Homo sapiens: one gene and its partners. The main gene of each other region encodes a partner of the protein of the gene in region 2 in a complex. Each region holds a gene or a part of one and is shown on either strand. Other genes may lie near its edges. The genes, in order: SMARCC2, SMARCD2, SMARCC1 and PBRM1.

Evidence for each region.
Region 1: SMARCD2 (region 2) and SMARCC2 share a complex: the UniProt entries of both Homo sapiens proteins name them as parts of the BAF complex.
Region 3: SMARCD2 (region 2) and SMARCC1 share a complex: the UniProt entries of both Homo sapiens proteins name them as parts of the BAF complex.
Region 4: SMARCD2 (region 2) and PBRM1 share a complex: the UniProt entries of both Homo sapiens proteins name them as parts of the SWI/SNF-B (PBAF) chromatin remodeling complex.

The regions. Positions count from the first base shown.
Region 1 is NC_000012.12:56,172,200-56,179,777, reverse strand, and holds part of SMARCC2 (SWI/SNF complex subunit SMARCC2), read left to right. Parts: intron 1-721; coding exon 722-781; intron 782-930; coding exon 931-968; intron 969-1,243; coding exon 1,244-1,374; intron 1,375-1,684; coding exon 1,685-1,756; intron 1,757-5,013; coding exon 5,014-5,127; intron 5,128-5,928; coding exon 5,929-6,082; intron 6,083-6,748; coding exon 6,749-6,841; intron 6,842-7,073; coding exon 7,074-7,193; intron 7,194-7,287; coding exon 7,288-7,350; intron 7,351-7,578. UniProt on the Homo sapiens protein: Involved in transcriptional activation and repression of select genes by chromatin remodeling (alteration of DNA-nucleosome topology).
Region 2 is NC_000017.11:63,832,298-63,839,875, forward strand, and holds part of SMARCD2 (SWI/SNF-related matrix-associated actin-dependent regulator of chromatin subfamily D member 2), read right to left. Parts: intron 6,432-7,578; exon of another isoform or gene 6,385-6,431; coding exon of another isoform or gene 6,313-6,384; intron 5,329-6,312; coding exon 5,144-5,328; intron 4,941-5,143; coding exon 4,898-4,940; intron 4,748-4,897; coding exon 4,625-4,747; intron 3,271-4,624; coding exon 3,115-3,270; intron 2,504-3,114; coding exon 2,408-2,503; intron 2,279-2,407; coding exon 2,177-2,278; intron 2,032-2,176; coding exon 1,870-2,031; intron 1,710-1,869; coding exon 1,612-1,709; intron 1,426-1,611; coding exon 1,290-1,425; intron 1,124-1,289; coding exon 1,001-1,123; intron 874-1,000; coding exon 772-873; intron 695-771; coding exon 641-694; 3' UTR 1-640. UniProt on the Homo sapiens protein: Involved in transcriptional activation and repression of select genes by chromatin remodeling (alteration of DNA-nucleosome topology).
Region 3 is NC_000003.12:47,659,433-47,667,010, forward strand, and holds part of SMARCC1 (SWI/SNF complex subunit SMARCC1), read right to left. Parts: intron 4,503-7,578; coding exon of another isoform or gene 4,181-4,502; intron 3,320-4,180; coding exon of another isoform or gene 3,288-3,319; intron 3,161-3,287; coding exon 2,902-3,160; intron 2,263-2,901; exon of another isoform or gene 2,133-2,262; intron 2,024-2,132; coding exon 1,862-2,023; intron 1-1,861. Other genes in the region: HIGD2AP2 (HIG1 domain family member 2A, mitochondrial-like), read left to right, coding at 3,288-3,319, 4,181-4,502. UniProt on the Homo sapiens protein: Involved in transcriptional activation and repression of select genes by chromatin remodeling (alteration of DNA-nucleosome topology).
Region 4 is NC_000003.12:52,584,829-52,592,406, forward strand, and holds part of PBRM1 (protein polybromo-1), read right to left. Parts: intron 4,428-7,578; coding exon 4,242-4,427; intron 2,683-4,241; coding exon 2,525-2,682; intron 1,861-2,524; coding exon 1,597-1,860; coding exon of another isoform or gene 1,585-1,596; exon of another isoform or gene 353-1,584; intron 1-352. UniProt on the Homo sapiens protein: Involved in transcriptional activation and repression of select genes by chromatin remodeling (alteration of DNA-nucleosome topology). Required for the stability of the SWI/SNF chromatin remodeling complex SWI/SNF-B (PBAF).

The DNA of each region.
Region 1 (7,578 bases), on a different chromosome or scaffold from region 2:
GAGGTGGAGGTTGCAGTGAGCCGAGATCGCACCACTGCACTCCAGCCTGGGCGACAGAGCGAGACTCCGTCTCAAAAAAACAAAACAAAAAACATGAAGAGAAGTTCTGTATTCTCTCCCTGAGTTGCAGTGGATCATCTTTTGCGTCCTATGTTAGAACCCCACTTTGGAGACATTGCTCCACCAATACTGGTTTACAGTCTGTATTCTGTAGACTCACCCCAGGTATTCCAGAAGTGTATTTCAGGGGTAGGATTAGGGCTGCCACCAAGAAGAGTTCTGGCTTCTACCTCCTCATCAATCAGCTCTCTCTCTTCTCTATGTTTGCTCCTGAGCATATGTATATGAATTCAGTTGAGGAAAGTATCCTCTGCTTTCAAAAATGTTTAACACTTAACCATTCTTCCACAGAGTGATTTGGTCAGATTCAGTATCAGACCATTAAAAGCTTACAGATACATAGATGGAGATAAAGGCCTGTCAAAGACAAGAATCATTTATGAATGTACATAGAGAAATAAGTTAAATTAATTTTTGGTTGGAGAAGTGGGGAAAGTAGCAAGAAGTTTGAAGCCCTAGAATAATTGTGACTGGAGAGAATTACTATATTTTGCAATCAGGTGGAGACAATTTTTGGAGAAAGTAGGATGTCTGGAACTATTAAATTGAAGGCTTGAATTAGGCAAAATCTGTCTGATAAAATGACTCTCTGTTTTCGCAGTCAACACAAAGAAAGACTCAGAGTCGGCCCCAGTCAAAGGCGGCACCATGACCGACCTGGGTAAGACAGGAGCCTCTTGGGCACGGCAGTCAGAGCCAAGGGAAGGGGAGGGCTCAGCTGCCCCCTTTTCGCTAGCCTGATGGGCTTTTGGTAGGGCTTTCTTGCCCCTCAGGAGGCTCCAGCCTTACATCTTGGTTTTTCTCTTTCAGATGAACAGGAAGATGAAAGCATGGAGACGACGGGCAAGGTGGAGCCAGTTTAGAGAGGCCCTACCTCTCTATGTGATTCTGATTTGTGATTATAAAGTTCATTCTGCCCAAACTTTTCACTGCCCAGACTTTACCCACTGTAGACTAATTCCAGCTTTGTTCAAAACTCTGACCCTTTCAGAGTCCTGGGGCCCATGACTGCTCAGTCCCATCACCCATCTTTAGTGTCCACATTCCTGGGGTGTGGGAGAAGCAGAGGGTTGCTAGGGAGGAAGCAGGAATGCTGAGTGTCCAGCAGCCTCCATACTCGTAGGATGAGGATGAGAACAGTACGGGGAACAAGGGAGAGCAGACCAAGAATCCAGACCTGCATGAGGACAATGTGACTGAACAGACCCACCACATCATCATTCCCAGCTACGCTGCCTGGTTTGACTACAATAGGTATGGTTGTCCCCAACTTCTCACTGAGTCCTTATTTCCCTGCCTCCAGGGGTCAACAGGCTGTTCTTCTCCCTGCCTCCTCCAAATAAGTTATTTTTTCCTCACCCAAATAGACCAGAGTACACTTTAGTTTTAGGGGAGCTCCTTGTGTCCTTTTGAGTCTTACAGCCTGTGGGATGTTCTCCCCAAGCTTCTAACTTCAGCAATTTCGAGCTCTTTTCCTTCTTTGCCTTCTAGGCTTTTCCTCCCTTTGGGGCCCCCATCCCTTCACCAATGCCTTCTTCTGAAACCATTCTGGCTTTTCTTGCAGTGTTCATGCCATTGAGCGGAGGGCTCTCCCCGAGTTCTTCAACGGCAAGAACAAGTCCAAGACTCCAGAGATGTAAGGAAATCTCATCTCATGATTCTCCTTCTCCCTCCTGTCCCCACATTCACCCTTCCTGATCCAGTAACATTCAGTTTAGCAAACATTTCTTGAGCATCTTCCATGAGCCAGGCACTATGCTAGGCTTACAAAGGCACAATATCTGCCTTTAGGCAGCCCTGGCCTAGCATGTAGACACATGTTCTTTAGGATTTGCCCAAGGGTGATATTAAGCATGTTCTATACATAACAAGTACCTACTCCAGTGCCTCAACTTCTTTTTAACAGGGTATAGAGCCTTTAAATCCATATTACTGATATCGTCTATACTGCAGATATTCCTAGCACAAAAGTTTTGATTAAAGTGTAAATTACTATTACCAGGCTGGTTCCTGAGAGTAGGTTTTAATAGAAAAACAAGAGAAGGAACTAATAGAAGACCAGTTTATATAAATTAAGGGATGGAGAGGGCTCACTGGGAAAGAAGTGTAGGAGCCACGGTGGCTCACGACTGTAAATCATCCCAGCTACTTGGGACACTGAGACAGAAGGATTCCTTGAGGCCAGGAGTTCAAGAATAGCATGAGCAACATAGCAAGACTCCCATCTCTAAAGAAGTGAAAAAAAATTAGCTGGGCCTGGTGGGGCATACCTGTGGTCCCAGCTACTTCGGAAGCTGAAATGGGAAGATTGCTTGAGCCCAGGAGTTTGAGGCTGCAGTGAGCCATGATCACACCACTGCTCTCCAGCCTGGCTGACACGGCAAGACCCCGTATCTAAAAAAATTAATGAACAAGGCTGGGTGTGGTGGCTCACGCCTGTAATCCCAGCACTTTGGGAGGCCGAGGCGGGCGGATCACAAGGTCAGGAGATCGCGACCATGCTGGCTAACATGATGAAACCCCATCTCTACTAAAAAGACCAGGCGCGGTGGCTCATGCCTGTAATCCCAGCAATTCGGGAGGCTGAGGCGGGCGGATCACCCGAGGTCAGGAGTTCGAGCTCAGCCTGACCAACATGGAGAAACCCCGTCTCTACTAAAAATACAAAACTAGCTGGGCGTGGTGGCACGTGCCTGTAATCCCAACTACTAGGGAGGCTGAGGCAGGAGAATCGCTTGAACCCGGGAGGCGGAGGTTGCAGTGAGCCGAGATTACGCCATTGCACTCCAGCCTGGGCAACAAGAGTGAAACTCCGTCTCAAAAAAAACAAAAAAACAAAAACAAAAAAAATTAGCCGGGCGTGGTGGCATGCATCTGTAGTCCCAGCTAGTCTGGAGGCTGAGGCAGGAGAATCACTTGAACCTGAGAGGCAGAGGTTGCAGTGAGCCGAGATCACGCCACTGCACTCCAGCCGGGGTGACAGAGCGAGACTCCGTCTCAAAAAAAAAAAAAATTAGCTGGGCGTGGTGGCAGGCGCCTGTAGTTCCAGCTACTTGGGAGGCTGAGGCAGGAGAATGGCATGAACCTGGGAGACAGAGCTTGCAGTGAGCCGAGATTGCGCCACTGCACTCCAGCCTGGGCGACAGAGCAAGACTCCGTCTCAAGAAAAAAAAAAAGATTTTGCCTCAGGCCAAACCTGCTTGGCTTTGGATAAGACATGGCAGTCTTCTTTGGTTAGGAATACTTCAAGATAACCACATTGATGAGGTGGGTGAGACTGAGAACTGAACAAGTTTTCTTCCCAGCTATTCCACAGCTTCCCCTCTCTGGGGGTCCCTCCGTGTTTTTTCTTCATAGCTTGCTATGGTTCTCTCTTCCTTCTCTTCCTGGAGAAAGCAGTATGTGTGAAAAGAAAGTAGTGATCAGGTGAAATGAATTCAACATGACATGCAGGCAGGGTTGGAGTAGGAACTGAACTCTTGGTATAAAATAGTAAATGATGGCTGGGCATGGTGGCTCACGCCTGTAATTCCAGCACTTTGGGAGGCCCAGGCGGGCAGATCACGAGGTCAGGAGTTCGAGACCAGCCAGGCCAACATGGTGAAACCCCGTCTCTACTAAAAATACAAAAATTAGCTGGGTGTGGAGGCACGCACCTGTAATCCCAGCTACTTGGGAGGCTGAGGCAGGAGAATCACTTGAGCCCGGGAGGTGGAGGTTGCAGTGAGCCAAGATCTCATCATTGTACTCCAGCCTGGGCAACAAGAGTGAAACTCCATCTCAGAAAAAAAAAAATAGTAAATGATGATAATTGCCTGCATCTATTGAGAGCTTAGTATCTCCCAGGCACTATACTAAATGTCCAACCTACATTGAGTAATTTAATCTTTACGTCAACCTTAGAGGTAGATATCATCTTCAGTTGACAGATAGGGTATAGAGGAGTCAAGTCACCTGCATAAAGTCACAGAGCTAGTAAATAAAACCAGGATCTGAATCCTTTAATCTGGCCCATGATCTGAAACTTTACACTGTACCACATGATAGCTGCCATTTTTTTGAGCCCCTACAATGCGCCAGGCACTATACTAGTACTTTATAGACCTCTCAACAGACATTCCATTTTACAAATGAGGAAACTGAGGTTTAAAAATTCGAAGTAAATTGCCAAGGTCCTCATGGTAGAACTGGGATTTGAACTTAGATCTTTTCAACTTCAAAACATATGTTTTTTACCGTGGTATGCTGACTAGCTATATGCATGAATAAGGACTTCCTTTTAACATCTGAGTTTGGAAATGAGTATTTTCTTAACTTCTAATTCCTTGTTTAAAAATTGTATAAAATGGCTAGGTGCAGTGGCTCATGCCTGTAATCCCAGCACTTTGGGAGGCTGAGGCAGGAGGCTCACCTGAGGTCAGGAGTTTGAGACCAGCCTGACCAACATGGAGAAACCCTGTCTCTACTAAAAATACAAAATTAGCCGGCCGTGGTGGCACATGCCTGTAATCAGAGCTACTGAGGAGGCTGAGGCAGGAGAATCTCTTGAACCCAGGAGGCGGAAGTTGCCATGAGCCAAGATCATGCCATTGCATTCCAGCCTGGGCAACAAGAGGGAAACTCCATCTCAAAAAAAAAAATTGTATGAAATATCCCTAAGTATAGCCAAGGAGATAATTCATTTAAAGAAAACCCCATCAAGGAAAAGTAAGACATATTTGAAACCCTTTCATCTAGCACATAGCAGGCACTCAGCATGTAGAGTCAAATAATCTACTTTTTTCCATCTTTATCATGCAGGAGAAGTCATTAGCTCTCTTACCATTTTTTCCTTTAGCCCTTTAACAAACATTTATTTTTCTTCTTCTTGTTTCTCTCTCTCTTTCTTCTAAGCTACCTGGCCTATCGAAACTTTATGATTGACACTTACCGACTGAACCCCCAAGAGTATCTTACCTCTACCGCCTGCCGCCGAAACCTAGCGGGTGATGTCTGTGCCATCATGAGGTGGGTCTTGTGGCTGAGGGGAAGGGGGTACATGAGGATGCCTGCCTATGGATGTGTTTTGGCAACAGTAGAGATGCCAGCAAGGAACACAGAGGAGCAGACAGAAAAAAGCACCTCTAGAGAAAGGTGAAGTACAGGTTTGGGGAATGAATGACTTGAGGGATTAGCAATGGCATTCTCTGAAGTGTAGAATATAGGACAAAGAAGGAGCATGTCTGTAATTGAAAGATACTGGTTCAGGCCAGGTGTGGTGGCTCATGCCTATAATCCAAACATTTTGGGAGACCAAGGTGGGAGGATTGCTGGAGCCCAGAAGTTCGAGACCAGCCTGGACAAAATGGCAAAACCCCATCTCTAGAGAAAATGCAAAAAAATTAGCTAGGCATGGTGGCACGTGCCTGTGGTCTTAGTGACTCAGGAGGCTGAGGTGGGAGGATCCCCTGAGCCCTGGAGGTGGAGGCTGCAGTGAGCGGTGATCACACCACTGCACTTCAGTCTCTCTTAGGGAAAAAAAGAAAGAAACTGGTTCAGTTTTACTAGCTATTCAGGAAGAAATGTTCGGTAGGTAGGTAGATATAGAGATTGGCCCAGGCTGAAGATGTAGACTTGGGTGTCACTGGCATTTAGGTGATAAATGAACAACTGGAGTAGGTGAGATTTCTTAAGGAGTACAATGAACAGAGGAAAAGGCCGGGGTTGGGTGGGGAGGGGGTTTATGCCCCTTCTACCCCCCACTTTTCCTCTTCCTCGTGCACCTTTCTGGCTATCCGTGTGACCCTGTCTCTGCCTCTCTCTGCACAGGGTCCATGCCTTCCTAGAACAGTGGGGTCTTATTAACTACCAGGTGGATGCTGAGAGTCGACCAACCCCAATGGGGCCTCCGCCTACCTCTCACTTCCATGTCTTGGCTGACACACCATCAGGGCTGGTGCCTCTGCAGCCCAAGACACCTCAGGTAGGGTGAGGTGCTATGGGGATGGGGCGGGTTGGGAAGATTGGGCTTCTTTGAACTTTTCTTTTTCTGGTTTTTAGGGTAATGGTTCAGGAGTGTTTTGAGGCTTCTTCCTTTTCCATGGGATGCAAAGGGTCACGGGAATCAGCCCCATGTGTTTAGCATCCTCTCTCAGCCTTTGTACCTAAGGCTGTAATTGCTGAGGGAGAAGAGATTATCCTTTTACTCAAGGAGTAGACAGGCTAATGTAGGGGAGTCAATAGAGAAAAATGGCTTAAAATTAACTTGCATGAAATTTTTAAACTTTGTCATCTTTGCCACATTTTTTCATTTTTGCCTCATAATTATCATCTTCATTTTTTTTTCCATTTCCACTTCATCCATTACAAAAATTAGGAAGAAGGTTATGTGGCTTGCCCAAGGTCACAGAGTACCAAATCTAGGATTAGAACCTAATTGTCCAGCTCCTAAGAGAACCTATAAAGATAATGTGAATATGTATGGATATCATGCCAACGACATGTCTTATTAATCATGAAGGGAACATGGAACAGTGGCATGAGTGCCCCCAGAGCTTGTGGGCCGCCCAGCATATGGTCTTGAGGCCTCCAGGGCCTTGGCCTGGTCATTTCCTGCCCAGCCTCCATGACGCCAAGCTCTGTCCCCCAGGGCCGCCAGGTTGATGCTGATACCAAGGCTGGGCGAAAGGGCAAAGAGCTGGATGACCTGGTGCCAGAGACGGCTAAGGGCAAGCCAGAGCTGGTAGGTGGGGTGCAGACCCTGCTGGGCTGCTCATTTTCCCCTTTATTGGGGGGCCCCTGCCCGGGAAGAAGAGACATGAGAGCAGAGGAACTACAGCAGTAAGGGAGGAAGTCCCACCCAGGGGTGTCCCTGGCTTTGGGAAAGAAGCTCCTTCTGTCTGTTTTTTCTCTCTGTCAGCCCCTGGCTCCCGGTGGTCACTTGTACTCACCTGTTTCTTTCCCTCCACAAATAGCAGACCTCTGCTTCCCAACAAATGCTCAACTTTCCTGACAAAGGCAAAGAGAAACCAACAGACATGCAAAACTTTGGGCTGCGCACAGACATGTACACAAAAAAGAATGTTCCCTCCAAGGTAGGAGGTGCGGGCCGACTCTAGGGGTAGAGAATGTTCGCTCCTCAGAGGTCACAGGCTCCTTTCTTCTCACCTGCCTGTGTTTCCCCTGCAGAGCAAGGCTGCAGCCAGTGCCACTCGTGAGTGGACAGAACAGGAAACCCTGCTTCTCCTGGAGGTAATTGGGGCAAAGAAAAGAGAGTTTTTCTCTGAAAACAGAAGTGGGCTCCGTGTAGAGGCTCACGCCTGTAATCCCAGCACTTTGGGAGGCCAAGGCAGGAGGATCACTTGAGTCCAGGAGTTCGAGATGAACCTGGGCAACATAGTGAGACTCCGTCTCTACGAAAAATTTTAAAAATTAGCCAGGTGTGGTGGCACACACCTGTGGTCCCAGCTACTCAGGAGG
Region 2 (7,578 bases):
CAGCCCTCTGGCATCCCAGGAGATGATGGCGGCCAGAGCCGCTTGCATAGATTGAGGAAAGAAAAGAAGGAGGCACCTAACAGGCTCCCTGAAAACCCCCAACTTACCCCTGTACAAAAAAAGTGGCTCCCACATAGAAAACTTGCTCCCAAAATAGTGCAAATACCCAAAGGAAAGGAAAAAACCAGCAGCAAGGCTGGGCTTGTAGGAATGGCAAAGAACTTTGGTTTAGAAAGGCTAGGAAGAGTCTGGGCTGCACCTCCTCTTCCTAGCCCAGCTCCCCAGAGCCAGCTCTGACCCTCGCCCCAGGGGGAGTCTGTAAACATGCAAACCCAGCAGCCTTTGGTTCGGAAATGTCTTACAATGTCAAAGCACAGCCTCCAGCAGTCCTACTTGGGCCTGCCTGCAGGGGGGCAGAGGAGGCATCTGCTGAACCCAATTAAAGCCAATGCAAAAAGTATAAGGCTTTGGGGACCAAGCAACAAGGAATCCTATCACTACATTTATAAGACTAAAGCTGGAGAGTAGAGGGTGACAGCAGACACTCCTCACCCCAGCCTACGTGTCTGCGGCCCCAGCAAGGACCCAGAGGGTGGTCTCCCTCCAGGCTCCAGGGCTGGGAAGAAAGATCCCTGAGCAGTTAGGTCAGGCGAATTCCCAGCACCTGTTCCAGTTCCTGCCTTCGCTGCTGCACCTGGAGAAGGGAGAAACCAAGTGGCTCAGGCCTTTGCTACTCACGGCCAAAGGAGGGAAAACAGGGCAGAGCCTCACCTTGGCAAAGATGTGCCTGCCTACTGCTTCCTGGGCCCAGGGCTGGTGGTAGAAAGCAGCTCGTCTCTCCTCCTCAGGATTTCCAATCACATCAGTGATGATCTGCAAAGAGCCAGGAGGAAAGCCATAGCATAATCCCCACCCCTGGGCTAATCCACCCTGGGAACTGCTGTGGGTAAAAATCACCCAGAGCTTTACATAGGAGTCCCCTCGGGAAAGAGGACTACACCTTGAGGTCTCGGCGCTGGGAACGGAGCCATTCCTGGATGAAGTCCTGGGGGTCGGTGCTAAAACTGAGCATGAAATCTCTCTGGGTCTTCAGCTGGTTGATGGACTCAATGGTCTCATGGATCTGGAGAGGGTACCTGTGTCAGACTGTGCCCCCAAAGCTTACATGCAAGCAACTGAGCCAGAGTTCCCATCCCGTCCTCCAGGTGCTACATGTATGGAAATGCTGGACAGAGCCAGCCCACCCCAATCCTGGGCCCCAGAGGAAGCTGTGGAGCCAGAGGGCCCACCTTGACATCAAGGGAGGCGATCTCCTGCTGATTGGTGGTAGAGGCCAGAAAATTGCTCATTTGGGCCTTCAGTGGGTCGTCCACCTCCACATCGATGTCGTAACAGGCTGTCTTCTTCTGGTCGTTAGGGTCGACACTGCAGGCAGCACATGGGGAGGGAAGGCACATAGCTGACTTCATCCTGCCCACCTGGGCCAAATCTGGGGCCCATTCTCTGCACACACTCAGGGAAAAAGAAACCTGATGCTTTCTTTGGCTTTAGTTCAAGCCAAGGGTGAATCTGCTCTTAGAAGAGCCTTCCTGTCCCCCTCCTTGCATTTACCTAATGACATGGTTGATGACAATGGGGTCTGGATGCTGCAGCAACCCTGCCAGCTTCATGGGAATCTCGGAGAAACGGAGTCGGCCACAACTGAAGATCTGGAGGAAATACGAAAGGCTCAGCGTTGGCTTGTGGGCACAGTGGAGTGGACCATTCCAGGACCAGTGAGGGCAGCAGTCTGCAGGCTGTGGCCAAGGAGTAGCCCAGCAGGCAAGGCAAAGCAAGGGCTGAGAAAACGGGGGCTGGCATCTGGCTAACCTGGCGGAAGTAACGGTTGCAGTTGATGTACTCCCGCTCGTGCCCATCCTGCAGCTGGTTGTGCTTGATGTAAAGCCACAGGGCCTGCATGATGGCGGCCCTCGTCTGCGTGTGCACTCCCAGCAGCCTTGCCAATCGGGGGTCCAATTTGTACTGGGGAGGCTGGAGTTGGATGGAGGGGAGTCAGAACGGGTTCTTATAGTAGAACAGTGGGAAAATAGGGCAGGGACAGGAAGGGTTTCTAGGAACCAGCTCCCCTCCTGAGGGGTCCCTGTGGGCCCAGAAATGACCCCAGGGTCTCTGTCACCTGATGATCCAGCATGAGCAGGAGGGTGCACTTGACGTTGAGGTCTCCAGGCCGTTTTACTTGGAAGCCATCTGTCTCCTGGGTGGTGGGCATCCGGTGCCACTGGCAGGGAGGGAAGCATGGCTTATCACCAAGGGGGTGGGCGTGAACACAGGGCCTCCCAAGGGCCCTGAGGCCATTTCCCTGCCAAACCTGCACATCAGCCTGCTTTTGCCCCAGGCCCACTCTCACCTCCACCAGGTGATTGTCAGGCCCGTACAGCTCCTTGTCCAGCTCAATGACGAGGCTCTTAAAGAATGAAGAAAACTTCCTCTTCTGTTTGCTAGGCTGGGGATGGAAAGGGGTGTGAGATGGTGCTGCTGAGCTCTCAAATCTCAAGCTATGCTAAATCCCAAGAAAGAGAAGCCCCATTTCAGCCCTGGAGCTCCGGATACTGAAGATTCCTGGGCCCTGAAGGATGGAAGCAGGACTCTGGGCAGACTGGAGGCAGGGAAATGGTGCCCTCTTGCAGCCCACGAGGGACTTCCTCGAGACACTCGACTGCCATCTGCAGGAACACTGTAATAACCACACAAATCAACCTCCAACGGGCTTGGAGCAGCGCCCCCCTCCCTATGGCAGGACTTCTCTGGGAGCGCCCAAGTGTCTGGCCCAGTCTTTTTTTTTCTGAGACACAATCTCACTCTGTCACCCAGGCTGAAGTGCAGTGGTGTGATCATAACTCACTGAAGCTCGACCTCCTGGGCTCAAGCCATCCTCCTGCATCAGCCTTATGAGTAGCTGGGACTACAGGTGCATGCCACCGCACCCAGCTAATTTTTAAATTTTTTGTAGAGATGGGGTCTGGCTCTGCTGCTCAGGCTAGTATCAAACTCCTTGGTCTCAGTCTTAAACCCACACAGGCCTCCTTCCCTCCAGAACCTCCCTCCCCAACTCACATCATCCAGCAGTTTTCCTTCCACTCGGAGTTCCCAGGAAGCCACCTTGTCCCCTGCTGGGGTTCCCCCAGGGGTCCCTGCAGTTCCTGCACTATCGCCTTCCGCCTTGCTGGGACTGAACGTATTGGAAATGTAGATCCGAAGCTTTCGCTTTTGCTAAAGAGAGAAAGGCAATCACAACTGGAGGTGGACCAAGATGCTGGGACACAGTGCTACCGCATCTTCTCATATGAACCATTCAACAATCAGTACTGAGCACCATGAGCCAGCCAGGCACCTTGTCAGGTACTGGGAATCAGAAGTAGTAAGTCCCAGTCCCAGCCTTTTTTTTTTTTAGACATGGTCTCACTCTGTCACCCAGGCTGGAGTGCAGTGGCGCGATCTCAGCTCACTTGCAACCTCTGACTCCCAGGTTCAAGCGATTCTCTTGCCTCAGTCTCCCATGTAGCTGGGACTACAGGTGCGCACCACCATGCCCAGCTAATTTTTTGTGTTTTTGTAAAGATGGTATTTCAACATGTTGGCCATGCTGGTCTCAAACTCCTGACCTCAGGTGATCTGCCCACTTCGGCCTCCTAAAGTGCTGAGATTACAGGTGTGAGCCACCGCACCTGGCCGGAACTCACCATTTTATGGGGAAAGAGATGCATCACCAACAATGCCAGCACAGTGGGACTGGTGCTACGGCATGATGGAGTAACACGCAGCCAGTCTCTGGCTCACATCTTACATGAAACCCAAACACCCATCACGGCTCCAAAATATCCTAGTCCCCTGGAAAGGCTTCACCACTCGGGACTGTTCTACATTATTATTAAGAAAAGCTTCTCGGCTGGGTGCAGTGGCTCACGCCTGTAATCTCAGCACTTTGGGAGGCCGAGGCAGTCAGGAGTTCGAGACCAGCCTGGGTAACATGGCGATACTAAAAATACAAAAATTAGCCGGGCGTGGTGACAGGCATCTGTAATCCTAGTTACTCGGGAGGCTGAGGCAAGAAGAATTACTTGAACCTGGGATGCGAAGGTTGCAGTGAGCCGAGATCGCAACACTGCACTCCAGCTTAGGTGAAAGAGCGAGACTCCATCTCAGAAAAAAAAAAAAAAAAAAAAAAGAAAATTTCTCTATGGATGGGGAAGGGGAAGGAGAAAGGAACTACCTTTATCCCCTAGTCTAGTGGTTTTCAAACTTTTGACCACCACCCATAAGATTTACATTTTCAATTATGACCCAAGGTCTGCATATCTATTTATCAGAAACAAAAATGTCATGAAAGAATCCATTTACTACTATGGTAAGTACTACTGTGAAGTATTTTAAGATTTTCTACTGTCATATATTCATTTAAAACATACTGGCCCCAACACATTCAACTGAGTTCGTACTCTACTAGTGGGCTGCATCCTGCATGTGAAAAACCCGGCTCTAGCCCAACTTGCTTGGCCCCTGGAAAACAAGGGGGTGGAAGGCAAGGAAACCTGGGAAGGCTAGAGGTGGTCAGGGCCACACATACTGTCAGAGGCTTTTTGATGGCCTCCTGGATCTCCATCCGCTTGCGAGCAATGGTCTGGTCCAGCTTCCGCTCAAAAGCCAAGAGATCCATGTACGCCTGAGACTCTGGAACAAGCTCCCGGATCTGAAGGAAGGTAGCAGAAGCTCATCAGCTTGCTTCAGCCAAAGCCTGGCTCTTTCCTCCCTTCCTGCTGCAGCCCAGCTTTGAGAGAGATGGACACCCACCCCAAGGTGGCCACTGGGCAGGCCTCCCAGGTGTCCTCTTAACACTTACTCGCTGAGGTAGAACCTTATCTGCCATCTTCCTCCTCTTTAACCTGGGGAGGACAGAAACCCACTTAAGAGGTCAATGGTCCAAAAAAGGACACTCACTCCCATAACGCCCCTCCAGTCTCCAGGACCCTCTCCCCCAGGAGAGCCTGGAGTCATCCTCAGTCACCAAAGCTCTTAAGATAGAAGGAAACCCTCTGCTACCACCAGAGCTGAGTTAGGCAGAGTGAGAGAAGCAGGATGCTCTTACCCCCGGCGCTGGGCAGGCATGGGAGGCTGCGCCTGGGGCACAAGCAGGCGTTTTCGGAATGGATCCATCATGGTGGGTGGCATGCCAGGTCGAAGCGGAGCTGCTGCACCAAATGGGGAGCCAGCAGGGGGTCCCACCTGCAAGCCAGCCATGGGCATCCGGTTCCCTGGTGACATGCCAGGTCGCTGGGGGAAGTGAGCCAACGGGGGTGCATAGGTCAGGGGCAAGGCCCTCCGGGACCCATAGCCCATGCCCTCCATCCCTCTCGTCAGCCAGGTAGGGCCTGAGCAGCACACCAGAGCCCTGCTGGAGCCCCAGGAACAAAGGGGAGTGGGCGCCTGAGCACAGAGTGTAAACCACACCTGCCCTGCCCCCTGCAACCGCCCTGGCAGCCATGCCAGCGAATGAGGCCTGCCAGAACCTGGGCTGGGAGGAGGGTCCTGCCTGCAGAGGGAAGGGCCTTGGGGAGCTTTTCAGGGCCCATTGCTACCTTCCAGCCCCAGCATGCTGTGCCCTATTCCCTGGGCAAGCTGGTCCCTATTCTCTCAGACAGTCCTGCCAAGCCCTGCCCTCCTTCTCTTTCTCCCATCATGAAGAAGAAGCATGGCTGAGAGGCACAGGGGCAGTGTCACTGCCAGGCAGAGGAGTGTACTATAGTATGAGTAGGCCAATGGCGCAGAGCCCCAATCCCCATCCTCTGTGGCCGAGGGAGAAAGGGGTCTGGTAGGCAGCAGCACCCCAGGTGAGCAGGGCTGCAACAGGATGGCTTGGAACGTGTACCAGCTGGTGGGGGTGGCCTCGGGCAGGGTACAGGGACCCTGTACCCTGTAGTCTGGTATCACATAGCCCCCACCCACAGCCCAGAACTGGACCCTCCTCTTACCTCCCTACTGCCCAACTACTACCCCTATGACAGAAGACCCCAGAAGGGAAGCTATGGCTCCTGGGTGGCCTGTGGGAAAGAGAGCAGCTAGCACCTGGACTCTGCCAGTGGTCCAGGCACCACCTGGCAGCCAGGACTGGCTCTGGCTCCGTGTAGCCCTGGCAATCCCAAGCTGGAGAAGGGGGCTAAGATTATCCTGGGAGGCAAGGATAGAGGCCCAGGCTGAGCAGCAGGAAAGTGGGAGACAGAAATAGCTTCTTTAGATGCCTGCAGAAGGATTTCCCACCTGAGGCCTTGCTCCCTGACATTTCTGTGGAGCCCATCTGGGAGTCACCTCCACCCCCACCCGCCTCCCCATGGCTGCTGCCTGCAAGGCCTGTTTGGCAGCTCTGCCTTGCACACACTGTCCCTGGCAGCTTCACAGGGCTGGCCCCAGGGCCCAGATTATGCAACGAGCACAACCAGCCAACCAAGCCCGGCAGGGTGGAGACTTGTACCAAATCAAAGGACCCTCCCCCACCCCAGCATCATGGAGATGAGATTCTTCCCCAACCTCTTCATCCCGCACTAAACCCATGTTCCCAACACAGAGGGTCAGATTCTTGACCAGATGCGGAGATGGAAAGAAACATGACCCACAGACGTGAGGATGGGGAGAGGAGGAGCAGGGTGGGACGGAAGTGTTTGGGAGAATAAAAAGTTCAAAGTGGGGGGCTCTGGGGCTTTGGGAGTCCTGCCAAAGTCTCTCTGCATCAGGAAGAGATTAATCAGAGCTGTTGAAAGGCAAAAGACAGCCTCTTTCTCTGCCTTAAAGATTGTTCTTTCTCTGGCCTGAGATTATAGAAAAAAACTAAGTGTGGCTACAGCTGTAAGCCCAGGCCCAGACATCCCAGACTAGTTTTTCCTAGTGCCTGAGACAAAGACAGGGAAGAACTGAAGCAGTGGGTCCTGCAGAGGTGAGCGAGGGCCCTGTGGTCCCCAGGAAGCTCCCTGCTGCAGTGTTCACAAAACCTGCAGCACCACCCATCCCTCCTGGGCAGGTGCTCCGGTAACAGGAAGTCCCAAGACAAGGCCTCATAGGCAGGGTCTGGAATAGGCTCCACCCAGACATCTGCTCCAGGTTTCCTGGGCCCAGAGCCCCTGGCTCACTCAGGGCCCCAGGGGAAGGCTGCTTATAGTTCAAGTCCCAGCTGAGCCTTGCCAAGCTCCATAGGGCTTATAGGCGCTAGCAACTCCTCCCACTTCAAAAAACAAAACAAAACAAAACAAACAAAAAAAAACAACTCAGGAGTTAAAGAAAAAAAAAAAAGCAGTCCAGCACTCTGAGCCTCCCTAACTCCCTGCCTGCAGCAGGACCAGGTAGGCCTGGATCAATCCCCTGAACCCCAGATGAGGAATCCAGGGCTCCGGTGAGCGTGCTTTGCCCTGCCCCAAATGTGGCCCTGATGCTCCTGGAACCTGGGCCTGAGGGCCTCAGTTGGGGAACATACCACCCACTCTCCCATGAGTAAAAAGGATTTTGAGGCCGGGTGCAGTGGCTCACGCCTATAAT
Region 3 (7,578 bases), on a different chromosome or scaffold from region 2:
GCAAACCAAATCTGATAGCATGTTAAATGGATTATTTACAAAGGCCATGTCGGATTTATCAAAATAAAAACCAAAAAACAAAAAGGGAGGGTGGTTCAACATGTGAGAATCAATTACAGAATAAACTAAAACTTTGGACTGTGGTTGATGATGATGTGTTAAAGTAGGTTTATCAACTATAACAAATGTACCACCCTGGTATTGATCGTGGGGAAAACTGTGCATGTAGGGGTAGTCAGGCAGTATACAGAAACTCTGTAATGTCTACTGAATTTTGCTATGAACCTAAAACTGCTCTAAGACATAAAGTCTACTAAGAAAAAAAAAAGGGGGGGGGGGCAAGAATCTGAGTAGGTATTTCCCAAGGCAGACATAAAAATGGCCAATAAACACATGATATTCAAGATGATTAGTCATCAATGCAAATACAAACCCCAACATCAAACCACTAGATTGGCTATTACAGGTAAAAATGGAAAATAAGTATTGACAAGGACATGAAAAACTTAGAAATGTTATACATTACGGGTAAGAACATAAAATGGTATAGCCACTATGAAAAACAGGCTGGCAGTTTCTCAAAAAGGTAAACAAAATTACCATATAACTCAGCAATTCTACCCCTAGGTATACACCCAACCAAAAGAAGTGAAAATCCTTAGTTCACAAAAAAGCTTGTATATAAGTACTCATAGCAGCATTTTTCATAGTAGTATAAAAGTGGAAACAATAGGCCAGGTGCGGTGGCTCATGCTTATAATCCCAGCACTTTGGGAGGCCGAGGCGGGCAGATCACGAGGTCAGGAGATCGAGACCATCCTGGCCAACATGGTGAAACCCTGTCTCTACTAAAAATACAAAAAATTAGCTGGGCGTGGTGGCAGGCGCCTGTAGTCCCAGCTACTCGGGAGGCTGAAGCAGGAAAATGGCGTGAACCAGGGAGGCAGAGCTTGCAGTGAGCTGAGATCGCGCCACTGCACTCCAGCCTGGGCGACAGAGCAAGACTCTGTCTAAAAAAAAAAAAAAAAAAAAAAAAAGTGGAAACAATAAAAATGTCCATGAACTGACAAATAAATATAATTGGGTATATCCACACAAAGAAATAATCAGCACTGACAAGAATGAGATACTGATGCATGCTACAGCATGGAAGAACCTTGAAAACATTATGCTAAGTCAAAGAAGCAGACACAAAGGCCACATATTATATGATTCTGTTTATATTAAATGTCCAGAATAGGCAAACCCATAGAGACAGAAAGCAGATTGTTAGTGGGTACCACAGCTGAAGAGCAAAAGGAATGGGGAGTGACCACTTAATAAGTATGTGACTTCCTATTGGGATGAGGAAAATGTTCTGGAATTAGATAGTGGTGATAGACACACAGCATTGTAAATATAGCAGAAGCTACTAGGTTATATACTTTTAAGCAGTTAAAATGAGGAATTTTATGTTACAGGAATTTTTCCTCAGCTAAAAAAACCCCCAAAACAATGAATTTAAACCCACTCAGCAACATATAAATTAACATAATCATAAGTCCTTTCAATATTCTTTTTTTCACCTACAGTTCCATGCATCTTTCAGTATTCTTGTATCTGTCTATTCAAAACCTGGATCTACAAACAGCAACCAGATAATTCACAACTGTAATACCATTAACAGTTACAAGATAATTTTTTAGTTCTAGCTACCAAAAGAAACAGACAAGAGAAAAAAAATCATGTACTAATCTTAAAAGACAAGTTTATACTGATCATTGTACTCACTTTTTAGTGCAAGTAAACCCAATTATTTGAGTAAACTGACAGGAATACAAACATATATTAACCCTGTCCCTTAAAAGCAGCAGTGACTCACCAAGCTTCTCTGGCTCATCGGGCCCTGTGCCTGCAATGCAGCTGCTCTCCAGACCGTAGGTGGGATCCACTTTCCCAGAGGCTCGTGCTGCTTCTTGTACTTTCTTGACATGAGCTTCAACCAATTCCAGTGGTACCTCCTCCCGGACCCGAGAAAACTCCTCTGGTTCAAGAATAAAAATGGAACAGCAATCTAACTTTGCACAAAAATTTGCTTCAGTGTAAAACCACCACCAGGAAACCCAACACAGTATTATTGTCTTAGGTGTAGCAACCTCTTCAGGCTCTCAGTCCCTCTATACCAGAAAAATGAGAGGACTAAATGAGACAAAAAATAGTAATAATAATGAAATTCTATGGTTCTACATTTTCTCCTACACATCACAGAGCCTTGAAATAAGAGATCTTTCAACTTATGCCAGTAATAATCAAAACTGCTGTCCATATTTTAACTGCTTACTAGATTAATAAGTCAAAAAAACAAAAACAGCAAGGATTAAACATCCATAAAACCAAGAAAGAGTTCTATGATGTGACAAAGTTCTAGTTACAATTAATGTGTAACCCATGAATATTAAATGACTTCCTTTGCTAGTTACACCAAATTCTAAATTAATCACAAAATACACAATAAAAAACCTCTGTCCCTCCAATTCCTAAAGCTCTTAATTTTAAGGTGCATTACTTAAAAATTTTGTAATACTTTTTTTTTTTTTTTGAGACGGAGTCTTGCTCTATTGCCCAGGGGATGGAGTGCAGTGGCACGATCTCGGCTCACTGCAACCTCTGCCTCCTGGGTTCAAGCGATTCTCCTGCCTCAGCCTCCCAAGTAGCTGGGACTATAGGCATGTGCCACCACACCCAGCTAATTTGGTGTCCAGCCAAATATTGTAATACTTTTATAAAGAATATGGTATCTTTCACAGGTAATATCTGATTTTTGTTATTTACATTAAAAGAAATGAATGTAACGGCTGGTAATATTTAAATTGGGATAAACTGAGTTTTTCTGTTGAGGAGATGGTTTAGGGAAGTCCATACCCAAAGCCGCTTTTGCTGCAGCAGATGCCACGCGAGGGTCCACCACAGATGCCAAAAAAGCAACAGTACTCATAACTGGATTTCCTGACTGACTGAAGGGGACAGGCTGGTAGGCCAAAGGCCCAAGGGAAGCATCTGAATTCTCAAGGTATGGGTCCTCAATGGGAAGTCTCAAAAAGTGGAGGATGCATTCATCCTGAGTACGACTTCCAACATGTTCCGACACTTTGTTCCAATCATCCTTGTACATCTCCAGGGCCTAAGACAGAAAAAACAGATGCTTTCATGTCAGGTAACAAGAAAGTAATGTGTAATATTAGAAGTTCTTTAGATAGCTTTTTTAAAAAAAATTAATGCAAATATTTATGCATAAATAGAAAGATTTGATGGTTTCCTTAGATTATTTTCAATCAGGCAAGTAAAATAAATAAAAGACATGCATACTGTAAAGAAAGTAGTCCAGGCACGGTGGCTCACGCGTATAATCTCAGCACTTTGGGAGGCAGAGGTGGGCAGATCACCTGAGGTCAGGAGTTCGAGAGCAGCCTGGCCAATAACATGGTGAAACCCCATCTCTACTAAAAATACAAAAATTAGCTGGGCATGGTGGTGCGTGCCTGTAATCCCAGCTACTCAGGAGACTGAGGCACCAGAATCGCTTGAACCTGGGAGGCAGAAGTTGCAGTGAGCCGAGATTGTGCCACTGCATTCCAGCCTAGGCGGCAAGAGTGATAGAAAGAAAGAAAAGAAGAAACAAAAGAAAAGAGGGAGGGAGGGAGGGAGGGAAGGAAGGGAGGGAGGGAGGGAGGAAGGAAAGGAGGGAAGGGAGGGTAGGGGAGAGGAGGGGAGAGGGGAGGGGAGGGGTGGGGAGGGGAGGGGAGGAAGGAAGGAAGGAAGGAAGGAAGGAAGGAAGGAAGGAAGGAAGGAAGGAAGGGCTTTTTTACTAATACATACAGACATGACTGTTTATGTAGAAAATTCTAAGGAAGCTATAAAAAAAAGTACTAAAACTGAATAGCTGAGCAAAGTCACAGGATAGAAGGGCAATAGAGAAACTGAACTATATTTCCATACATAATAGCAATGAACAATTTTAAATAGGAAGAAAAAAGTATTTAAAATAACATAAAAGCTGGGTGTAGTGGCACACATCTGTACTCCCAGCTACTCAGGGGGCTGAGGCGAGAGGATCTCTTGAGCCCAGGGGTTCAAGGCCAGCCTGACAAACACAGCAAGACCCTGTCTTAGGTCGCGATTTTCTCCTGCTGCTGTGGCCCAGACATGGCGACTCCGGCCCTGTGATTCCAGAGGTCCCCTTTGAACCATCGAAGCCCCCAGTCATTGAGGGGCTTAGCCCCACTGTTTACAGGAATCCAGAGAGTTTCAAGGAAAAGTTCCTTCACAAGACCCACGAGAACCCGGTGGTACCCATAGGTTGCCTGGCCACGGCGGCCGCCCTCACCTACAGCCTCTATTCCTTCCACCGGGGCAACAGCCAGCGCTCTCAGCTCATGATGTGCACCTGGATCGCCGCCCAGGGTTTCACGGTCACAGCCATCTTGCTGGGTCTAGCTGTCACCGCTATGAAGTCTCAACCCTGAGCCCAGGGTCTGGCTTTGAAAGCTCCGCAGAAATGATTCCAAAACCCAGGAGCAAGCACTGGCCCTACCATGGGACTTACTCCCTCCTCTCCTTTGAGAGGCCCATGCGTCGTTGGGGGAGGAAGTGACCCTTTGCGTAACTGTAACTGAAAGTTTTTTCAAAAATCCTAGTTTCTGTTGTTTGAATGTTACATACTTCTATTTGTGCCACATCTCCCCTCCACTCCCCTGCTTAATAAACTCTAAAAAAAAAAAAAAAAAGACCCTGTCTTAAATAGCATAATGAGATACTTAGGAGGAATAAACATAATAAAGAATGTATAAGAGCAACAGACTAGAATGAGTAAAACATGAGAGAACTCAAAGACCCAAATAAAGGAAGAGATATATTGTGTTCATTCATTAGAAGTCTCAGTATTAAGATGTCAGTTCTTTCCAAGTTGAACTACAGATTCAATACAATTCCAGTCAAACTCCAAGTAGGCTTCTTTTTAGTAGAAATTGATAAACTGATTCTAAAATTTATAAACTACATACATTTCTAGTTTTATAATTTATTATTTTTTCAGAGAAAATCCTGAAAGAAACCAACAAAAAGAGTAAAAGGAGTCTCCGAGGGAAAAACGGATAGAACAGTAGAAAGAAAACCACAACTATGTGGTGCTAAGAATGTTGAGGAATTAATTGGATAAAAAGAATTTATTTAGTGGCATACTGAAGTTGCTACTCTCACACCATTCTCTCCAGGACCATGGTTCTCAATGAAGGGTAATTTTTGCCCCCTTGAGGACACTGGCAATGTCTGCAGACATTTTTGGTTGACCCAACTGGAGAAGTGCTGCTGGTATCTAACAGCAAGGAGGGGCCATGTATGCTGTAAAACATATATGAACCCTCCACCCCAACAACAAAAAAATCTGGCCCAAATGTCAATATTGAATGCTCCAACTGAAAAACCTTGCATTAGAGCCTAATTTGCTGCTCTACACTGTGAGATTGAGCTTTCTATAACAATAGTTGTCTCCATGTTTACTTTTTCAGTTAATTATTTTACTTCAAAGATTTTTTTTTCTTAATTTTTAGAGACATGTTCTCACTGTATTGCCCAGGATGGTCACGGACTTCTGAACTCAAGGAATCCTCCCGCCTCAGCCTCCCAAAGTGCTGAGATTACAGGTGTGAAACACTGCACCTGGACATCAATTAATTCTTAACTCTGGGTTCCAACTGCTGCTCAGGCTTTCATTTCTGCTGGAATGGTAGAGGACTTCTCAAAACCCAAGCCAGCAAATGGCCTGACACATTAAATCCCTTGAAAAACTAGGCTAATTCTGGGTTTCCTCTGGATATTCAGTAACCTCAGGTAGTTCGAGAAGGAATTACTTTTTGAAAGATCCAGATTGTAAGAAAAAAGAAAAATAAATCTCACTCGGGTCCACGGAAGTAGAAATATATCTACTGGGGCTGTATTATGTTTCTAATTATAAATAGGGATTTTCTAGACATGCTCTATCATGCCCTTTTCCAATGAAATTTTTAATTAAAAAATATTTTTTCATGTTCCTTTCGCCAGGGAACAATAAGAAAGTTCATCAAGTTTTTTTCCAGAATAAAGGTGGAGTTGGGGAAACTTCTGAGATACAAAATCCAAGCAAGACTCAGCATCCAGAAGAGCACAGAGTTGAGAATCTGTAAATGTCTGAGCCTAGGAACTGATAATAATGCTAATAAGAGAGGCAAATTAAAGTGATGTTTTGAAAAGAGAATAATGCGGTGACACACTGGCCAGGAAGGAGGATGATTCAATGAAAGTTTTTAGTAAGTATCTTATAATGCTACAAAACAGCTTCATTCATCCTGCCATAACCCAGGTTCAGGTCTTCATCATTACTTAACCTGGATACACTCACTCACTCTCTTTTTTTTTTTTTTGTGAGACACGGTCTTGCTATGTTGCCCAAGCTGCTGTCCAATTCCTGGCCTCAAGCAATCCTTCCATCTCAGCCTCATAGATCGATTATTATAATTACCTTTCTATAGTAATTTCATCCTTCTCCACGCTGCTAGGGTGAAATATGTTTTACATAAAACACTCTTTCTCTCCTGCCTAAAACTATTTTATTATGTGTCATTATCTTATGAAATTAAGCCAAACATGATCAGGACACTGCCTACTTCTCCCGCCCTATTCCCTACTCTTCACGTTTCAACAATACACAGGCCCCACTGATCTATTCCTACTAGGTATTGTGCCTATGAACCATTTGTTCTGCACTGGAAACATCATGTTTTAGGACCAACACAGCTATACCATTCCCAGAAGCCTGTTCATTATGTCTTATCTACCTGGCTTGTTTGCAAAGCAACTCCTCTGTACAGCTCTTGTGCTCTGGACATACCTCTAATCATAAAGCTGGGAATTCCGCATTCAAGCTTTGTGTTTTATCTTTCTCTGTCACTTAAGCAGACTATGAATTCCTTAAAGGTACAGATTGTGTTCTACAGATCTCTACCTGCAGTGTCTGTCAGTGTCCAAAACACAATACCTAATAAAGTTTACTGAACTCAAACCACAGGAAACTGAACTAAACCAAGAAATAAATCTGACTTTGCTATGGCTCTCAAATGTAAAAAGGCAGACTGTTTTCCTAATTAAAAAAAAAAAAAAAAAAGGTTCTCTTAGCTAAACCAAGCTTGTCCAACCTGTGGCCTGCAGCCTACATGTGGCCCAGGATGGCGCTGAATGTGGCCCATACAAATTCATAAACTTTCTTAAAACACTATGATTTTTTGGGGGGATTTTTTTTTAAGCTCATCAGCTATTGTTAGTGTTAGTGTATTTTATGTGTGGCCCAATGTGGCCCAGGGAAGCCAAAGATTGGACATCTCTGTCCTTAAGAAAAGTTTTTTAATAGAAGATTTACTATGCATCTTAGTGTAGTTCAAAAGTACATAGAATGATATATTTCCTGGGTTTTGCATCAAGAAAAAGTATGTAAAGTGTATGCACACTGTGAGGAAATCTTTCATGTTGGTTACTGAATATCTTCTAATGCTATGTTTCCTATTATTTAGC
Region 4 (7,578 bases), on a different chromosome or scaffold from region 2:
AAGTAACACTAGAACAGTAAGCCCCTTTGTCCAGTGTGTAAATTTAAAAAGGAATTTGTTTTATAGGCTTCAGGCTTGAGACACAAATATGAATTTAAAAAAAAATTACACTAGAAGAAATACCTATTGAAAGTCTTAAAAAAAATCAAGATGGGTTCTCTACCAAATAATCTTTCCTTTGATCTAATGGAATAATGAATGAAATTTAAAGATCTCCCTAACTTTGAACAATTCTTGCTTTCTTAGAATGAATTCCCACTTCTTGGTCATGTTGTTCTCAAAGAAGTAATTTGATTTCACTTACTTTTTCCCCCAAGTAATTTTTGCATCAATATACATGAATAAGACTGAGTTGCAGTTTTTTGTTTTTATTTTTCAGGTTGTGAAATCAAGATTATCTTGGCTTTGCAAAACAAACTGGAAATTTCTTGTTCTCCCTGCTCTGAAACAGCTTCAACAGTATAATAATCATAGGTCCCTTAAAGAAAAAGTCACCTATGGAACTGTCTGACCTCAGTACTCTTTGGGGTCAGTTCTATGATACTTTAAAAAATTTCTTCATGTTGTTGTACATTCTGTATTATATCTCTTCTTGATTCCATTTTGGTAATTTGTAATATCCTAGACAATTAGCCATTTTATTTAGGTTTTCAAATTTATTAGCAGAAATATACAGTCTTTACATTTCTTCCACATTTATTTATTTATTTATTTTTTGAGACAGAGTTTCGCTCTTGTTGCCCAGGCTGGACTGCAATAGCACGATCTCGGCTCACTGCAACCTCTGCCTCCTGGGTTCAAGCGATTCTCCTGCCTCAGCCTCCCGTTGGGATTACAGGCACCCACCACCTCACCCAGCTAATTTTTTGTATTTTTAGTAGAGACAGGGTTTCACCACGTTGGCCAGGCTGGTCTCGAACTCCTGACCTCAGGTAATCCACCCATCTTGGCCTCCCAAAGTGCTGGGATTACAGGTGTGAGCCACCGCGCCTGGCCTTCTTCCACATTTTGTGTCGAAGTTTAACCCCTTTCTTTTCCCATTATTAGATAGTTGGCAGTTTATCTAATTGGACTTGTCAAATAATTAGCTCTTAGATTTACTTTAAAAAAATTTTTTGTTTTTTTGAGACAGAGACTCACTCTGTTGCCCAGGCTGGAGTAGAGTGGCGTGGTCTCAGCTCACTGCAGCCTCCGCCTCCCAGGTTCACGCCATTCTCCTGCCTCAGCCTCCTGGGTAGCTGGAATTACAGGCACGCGCCACCACACCCAGCTAATTTTTGTATTTTTAGTAGAGATGAGGTTTCACCATGTTGGTCAGGCTGGTCTCGAACTCCTGATCTCGTGATCTGCCCGCCTTGGCCTCCCAAAATGCTGGGATTACAGGCGTGAACCAATGCACTTGGCCTGATTTACTTTTAAATTATAATGTACAGTTTTGAAAGTGTAAATTTCTTTCTGTTATAGTTTCCTTCTTCCTGTTTGGCTAAGGTTTTGTGTTGTTGCTCTTTTTCTAAGTTTGAATACTTTATTCATTTATTTTCTGGAATAGGTGTTTTGAGATGTAAAATTTTTTCTGTGTGGCTATTATCTGCATACCTTTTCCAAGTTAAAATTGTCTTCAGCTCGACTGTCCTCTGAGTTGTCTGTATTCTTCTCATCATCACCTTTATCTGCATTTGCAAATACAGAGGCCACGCGAACCACAGGCAGAGGCACATCCCGAGGGACAAACCTGACTGAGCTGATGGGCATGGTCCACAGTTTAATTTTCTTAAAAGATTTGGTTTTGGCAGAATACCGTGATTCACAGACAAAAACATCCTCATCTCGGAAGTTTTCTGGGCATAACTTAAAGTATTCCTGGGGGGTGGGGAGGGCATAAGAATAAAACTAGTTAGGTGAATTTTCTGAAAATCAATCAAAAAAAAAAAAAAAAAAAGCAAATAACCAACCAACCAAACAAAAGCTGAACTGATTACAGACTTTCTGGCAGTTAACAAAAAATAATAAATGACCAGAGATTTAGAAGTATTTCTTTGGCTACGGAATGGACTTATTATATACACACCCTTTAAATTATAAAAACAAATAATTCCATTTAGCTTACAATTGCTCTTTGAAAACATATGAACATTTCATATAGCTATAATGTTCCTTAAAGCTTTGAAGAGGGCTTGTGTGTGTGTATCAGACAGACACACAAAAGCACACATTATTACCTAAAAAACAAACTGAAAATTTGTAATGATTATCCTTAAAAAAACATCATACTTAAAAATTAGCCTGGCAATATTAAAAACTTAACCTAACTGCATTATAGCCAAATAGTGTAAGCAGCAAGTGGTCTTTCACAACGAAGTTCAGGTTAATTTCTTCCCAAATCTTTTCATATAGCTATATAGACACGGCTTAAAAAATAGCTTAAAACAGAGTTCCTAATTTTGTAAACATCGATTATTTTCTGTGTTTTAAAATTTTATTCCTAGGGAATGAGTGAGACTTTGGGATTTAATGAGTTTCTTACCTTGACAAACATGACCACACACTTGCCTAGAATTTTACTAACTGGAACTTTGTTGTAATAGTCACTCTTAAAAACTTCTTTTTCTAGAAATTTTCGTGTAGCCAGGTGGAATGTTTCATTTGGTCGGTAAAACCAACAGCCATACAACCATTTTTCACCTCAAAAATGGGGGGTGGGGGAAGGGGAAGAGAAAGAGAATCATTGTTAACAGAAATCACTTTTTTTTTTTTTTTTTTTTAAAGAGACTGGGTCTCACTACGTTGCCCAGGCTGGACTTGAATTCCTGGGCCAAAGTGGTCCTCCAACCTCAGCCTCCTGAGTAGCTGGGACTACAAGTATAAGTCACTGTGTCCAGCTCAGAAATCACACATTCTTTGCAAAATTAGGAAATACACCATCAATCCACTCTGCCATGACATGAACCTAGCACTGTGCTTATTTTTACAGCTACAGTTTAATATAATTATCCACAGGAGAAATAATACTCAAAAATAATAAAGTGTAATGAGGCCTAAAAAATGCATGCTACTTTTCCCCCCTCATATATATATATATACACCCTCAACCTCTTGGGCTCAAGTGATCCTCCTGCCTCAGCCTCTCAAGTTGCTGGGACCACAGCAAGTGCAATCACACCCTGCTGATTTTCTTATTTTTTCTAGAGAAGGGGTCTTGCCATGTTGCCCAGGCTCTTCTTCATATTAAAAGCCATATAAAGTACATAATGAGGAGGACAGGTGATGAGACCTGCTCCACTCTGCTCTGGTTAGTACATACCTAGAGTTGTGCACTTTAGTAAGGGGACAGATATGCTACTGAAGGACATATTTAGCTCTCTGGTGAAGGAATACAAAAGTATTTCATGTGATAGGCAGCTCAAAGAACTGGATTGCCTGGATCACATTTCCACCAACTTCTGGCTTCATTAATTTCTATGCATACTCCATGTCTCAATTTAAAGGCAACTGTTCTAGAAAGCCTTTTTGAAAACAAATGCTAAGCCAAGGCATGTCATTCTATAATAATTTCTTTTTTGATCATAATCTTCCTTACTGGAGTAGTTTTGCAAGGGAAAATATGAGCTTTTTGTTCTTCTGAATCTATGTCACTCTACATAAAGTTTGGCTCAAAGTATGTTTTTAATAAGTATCAAATGAATGAATGAATCTCAACCAGACTTTAAGAAGCTGTATTTCTTTCTTTTTTTTTTTTTTTTTTTTTGAGACAGTCTCACTCTGTCACCCAGGCTGGAGTGCAGTGGCGTGATCTCGGCTCCCTTGCAAGCTCCGCCTCCTGGGTTCACGCCATTCTCCTGCCTCAGCCTCCCGAGTAGCTGGGACTACAGGCGCCCGCCACCAGGCCCAGCTCATTTTTTGTATCTTTTTAGTAGAGACAGGGTTTCACTGTGTTAGCCAGGATGGTCTCGATTTCCTGACCTTGTGATCTGCCCGCCTCAGCCTCCCAAAGTGCTGGGATTACAGGCGTGAGCCACCGCGCCCGACCTAGAAGCTGTATTTCTTTTGACTCAACTGTGACACTTGCCCAATAGGTCCTATGTTTTTCATATGATGGGTGCTTACTTACATTTATTGACATATTGAACAATTATTATGGAAAGGCTTAAGATGTCTGAGTTAAAATTTTCTTCCCTGAGGAGCAAGGAGAAGTCAAACAGTCATATCTCACTAAACTGTCCTTTGATTTAAAACAAACTTACCAGCTGAATCCTCCCACAGTCTTTCAATACAGACGATATGTGGTTGTAGGTTGGCCTCTGCAGGTTCCACATAGACGTAATCTCCAACATGGTACATGCTGTTTTTAAAGCTACAGTCCTGGCTGTATGTGCGATGTAAGCCTGAGAGGCCTGCAGCACCAGAGGAATCTTCACTCTTTTCAGCTTCTTAGGTAAAAAAATAAATAAATAAAGGAAAAAGGTACTCACCAAAGGGATGCTGAAGTCAGATGTAGGGTTCAAACAACACATACTAATAATACATTTAATACATTTAATTCCATTTGCAACATGCGAAGGCAGGAATCAGCAATAGTATGATCTTCACATTCCTAATAGCCTCTACTCAAAACTATCTTTGAATTACAACCATCATTAATTTAAATGAATATATAACTACACAAAGGATGTAGAGAATAAAAACATCACCTTACTAATATATGATCATATGGACATTTTGGATAATATCGAAAGGCACAAAGAAGTACGTATGTCGTTTCGAATCAAGTAATTCTAGAGATAATCTCTGATATACTTCATCCCCACCTTAATGCTTCTTAATGTGTTTCATTTCACTAAGTTATTACACGAATATGACACATTTAATGGAGTCTTAGAATTGAAGAAATATAGAATACATATATTCTACAATATACTATAAACTATATCTAGTATATATACTTAATATATCAAGAACACTAGCCCTGAGAGGAAATGCTTTTCAAAATGACTTTTATTTTTATTTATTTATTTTTTTCGAGACGGAGTTTCGCTCTTGTTGCCCAGGCTGGAGTGCAATGGCACAATCTCAGCTCACCACAACCTCTGCCTCCCAGGTTCAAGCAATTCTCCTGCCTCAGCCTCCCGAGTAGCTGGGATTACAGGCATGCACCACCACGCCTGGCTAATTTTGTATTTTTAGTAGAGATGGGGTTTCTCCATCTTGGTCAGGCTGGTCTCGATCTCTCGACCTGAGATCCGCCTGCCTCAGCCTCCCAAAATGCTGGGATTATAGGCGTGAGCCACCGCGCCCAGATGACTTTTATTTTTGTTAAGTAAAACTTATTAATAGTTCCAGTACAGGCCGGTAGCGGCAGCTCACGCCTGTAATCCCAGCACTTTGGGAGGCCGAGGCGGGCGGATCACTTGAGGTCAAGAAGAGTTCAAGGCCAGCCTGGCCAACATGGTGAAACCCCATCTCTACTAAAAATATTAAAAAATTAGCCAGCATGATGGCAGGTGCCTGTAGTCCCAGCTACTTGGGAGGTTGAGACAGAAGAATCGCTTAAACCTGGGAGGTGAATGTTGTAGTGAGCCAAGATCAGGCCACTGCACTCCAGCCTGGGTGACAGAGCAATACTCCATTTCAAAAGAAAAAAAAAAAAGTTCCAGTACAAGCTATCGTTTGCAAATATCACAGGGTTTTTATTGAGGATAAAGCTTTGCCCAAATCTTTGATTACTTCCTTAGGTTAATTTCCCATAAATGGAAGAGCTAATAATAAGCATTTTAAATGTTATTTATTTTATTCCTCCTGAAACATTAAATTTTCTTTTTCTTTTTTTAGACAGTCTCACTCTGTCACCCAGAGTCTTGAACTCCTGACCTCAAGTGATCTGCCCGCCTTAGCCTCCTAAAGTGCTGGGATTACAAGCGTGAGCCACCGTGCCTGGCTATCTAAATTTTAAAATAGTTTTTCTAGTTCTGTGAAGAATGTCATTGGTAATTTCATACGATTAGGACTGAATCTGTAAATTGCTTTGGGCAGTATGGCCATTTTAATAACATTGATTCTTCCTATCCATGAGCATGGAATGTTTTCCCATTTGCATCTGTCATCTCTGATTTCTTTGGGCAGTGAGTAATTCTCATTGTAGGGATCTTTCACCTCCCTGGTTAGCTGTATTTCCAGGTATTTTATTCTTTTTGTGGCAATTGTGAATGACAATGCGTTCCTGATCTAGCTCTTGGCTTGGCTGCTATTGGTGTATAAGAATGATAGTGATTTTTGTATACTGATTGTGTATCCTGACACTTTGCTGAAGTTTATCAGCTGAAGGAGCTTTTGGGCTGAGACTATGGGTTTATTAGATATAGAATTAAGTCATCTGCAAAGAGACGTAGTTTGACTTCCCTCTTCCTATTTGAATACCCTTTATTTCTCTCTCTTACCTGACTGCCCTGGCCAGGACTTCCAGTACTATGTTGAATAGGAGTGGTGGGAGACAGCATTCTTGTCTTGTGTCAGTTTTCAAAGGGAATGTTTCCAGCTTTTGGTTATTTCAGCATGACGTTGGGTGGCTTTGTAATAGATGGCTCTTATTATTTAGAAGTATGTTTCTTTAATACCTAGTTTATCTAGAGTTTTTAATATGTCAAAAAGCCTTTTCTACATCTATTGAGATAATGTAGTTTTTGTCTTTGTTTTTTTTTTTTTTTTTTTTTTTTTGAGACGGAGTCTTGCTCTTGTCTCCCAGGCTGGAGTGCAGTGGCATGATCTCGGCTCACTGCAACCCCCGCCTCCCAAGTTCAAGCAATTCTCCAGCTTCAGCCTCCTGAGTAGCTGAGATTACAGATGCCCACCACCATGCCCGGCTAATTTTTGTATTTTCAGTAGAGATGGGGTTTCACCATCTTGGCCAGGCTGGTCTTGAACTTCTCACCTCGTGATCCACCCGCCCCGGCCTCCCAAGCTGTTGGGATTACAGGCGTCAGCCACTGCGCCCGGCCTTTTTTTTTTTTTTTTTTTTTGACATAGTCTTGCTCTGATGCTCTGATGCCCAGGCTGGAATGCAGTGGCGCCATCTCGGCTCACTGCAACCTCTGCCTCCCAGGTTCAAGCAATTCTCCTGCCTCAGCCTCCCAAGTAGCTGGGATTACAGGTGCCCACGACCATGCCCGGCTAATTTTTGTATTTTTAGTAGAGATGGGGTTTCACCATCTTGGCCAGGCTGGTCTTGAACTCCTGACCTTGTGATCCACCCGCCTCAGCCTCCCAAGGTACTGGGATTACAGGTGTGAGCCACTGCACCAGGTTTTTTTTTTTTTTTTTTTTTTAAGACTTGAGATGGATTCTCGCTCTGTCGCCCAGGCTGGAGTGCAGTGGTGCGATCTTGGCTCACTGCAGTCTGCCTCCTGGGTTCAAGTGATTCTCCTGCCTCGGCCTCTCGAATAGCTAGGACTACAGGTGCGTGCCACCACACCTGGCTAATTTTTGTATTGTTTCTAGAGACAGGGTTTCACCATGTTGGTCAGGCTGGTCTCGAACTCCTGACCTCAGGTGATCCACCCACCTTGGCCTACCAAAGTGCTGGGATTA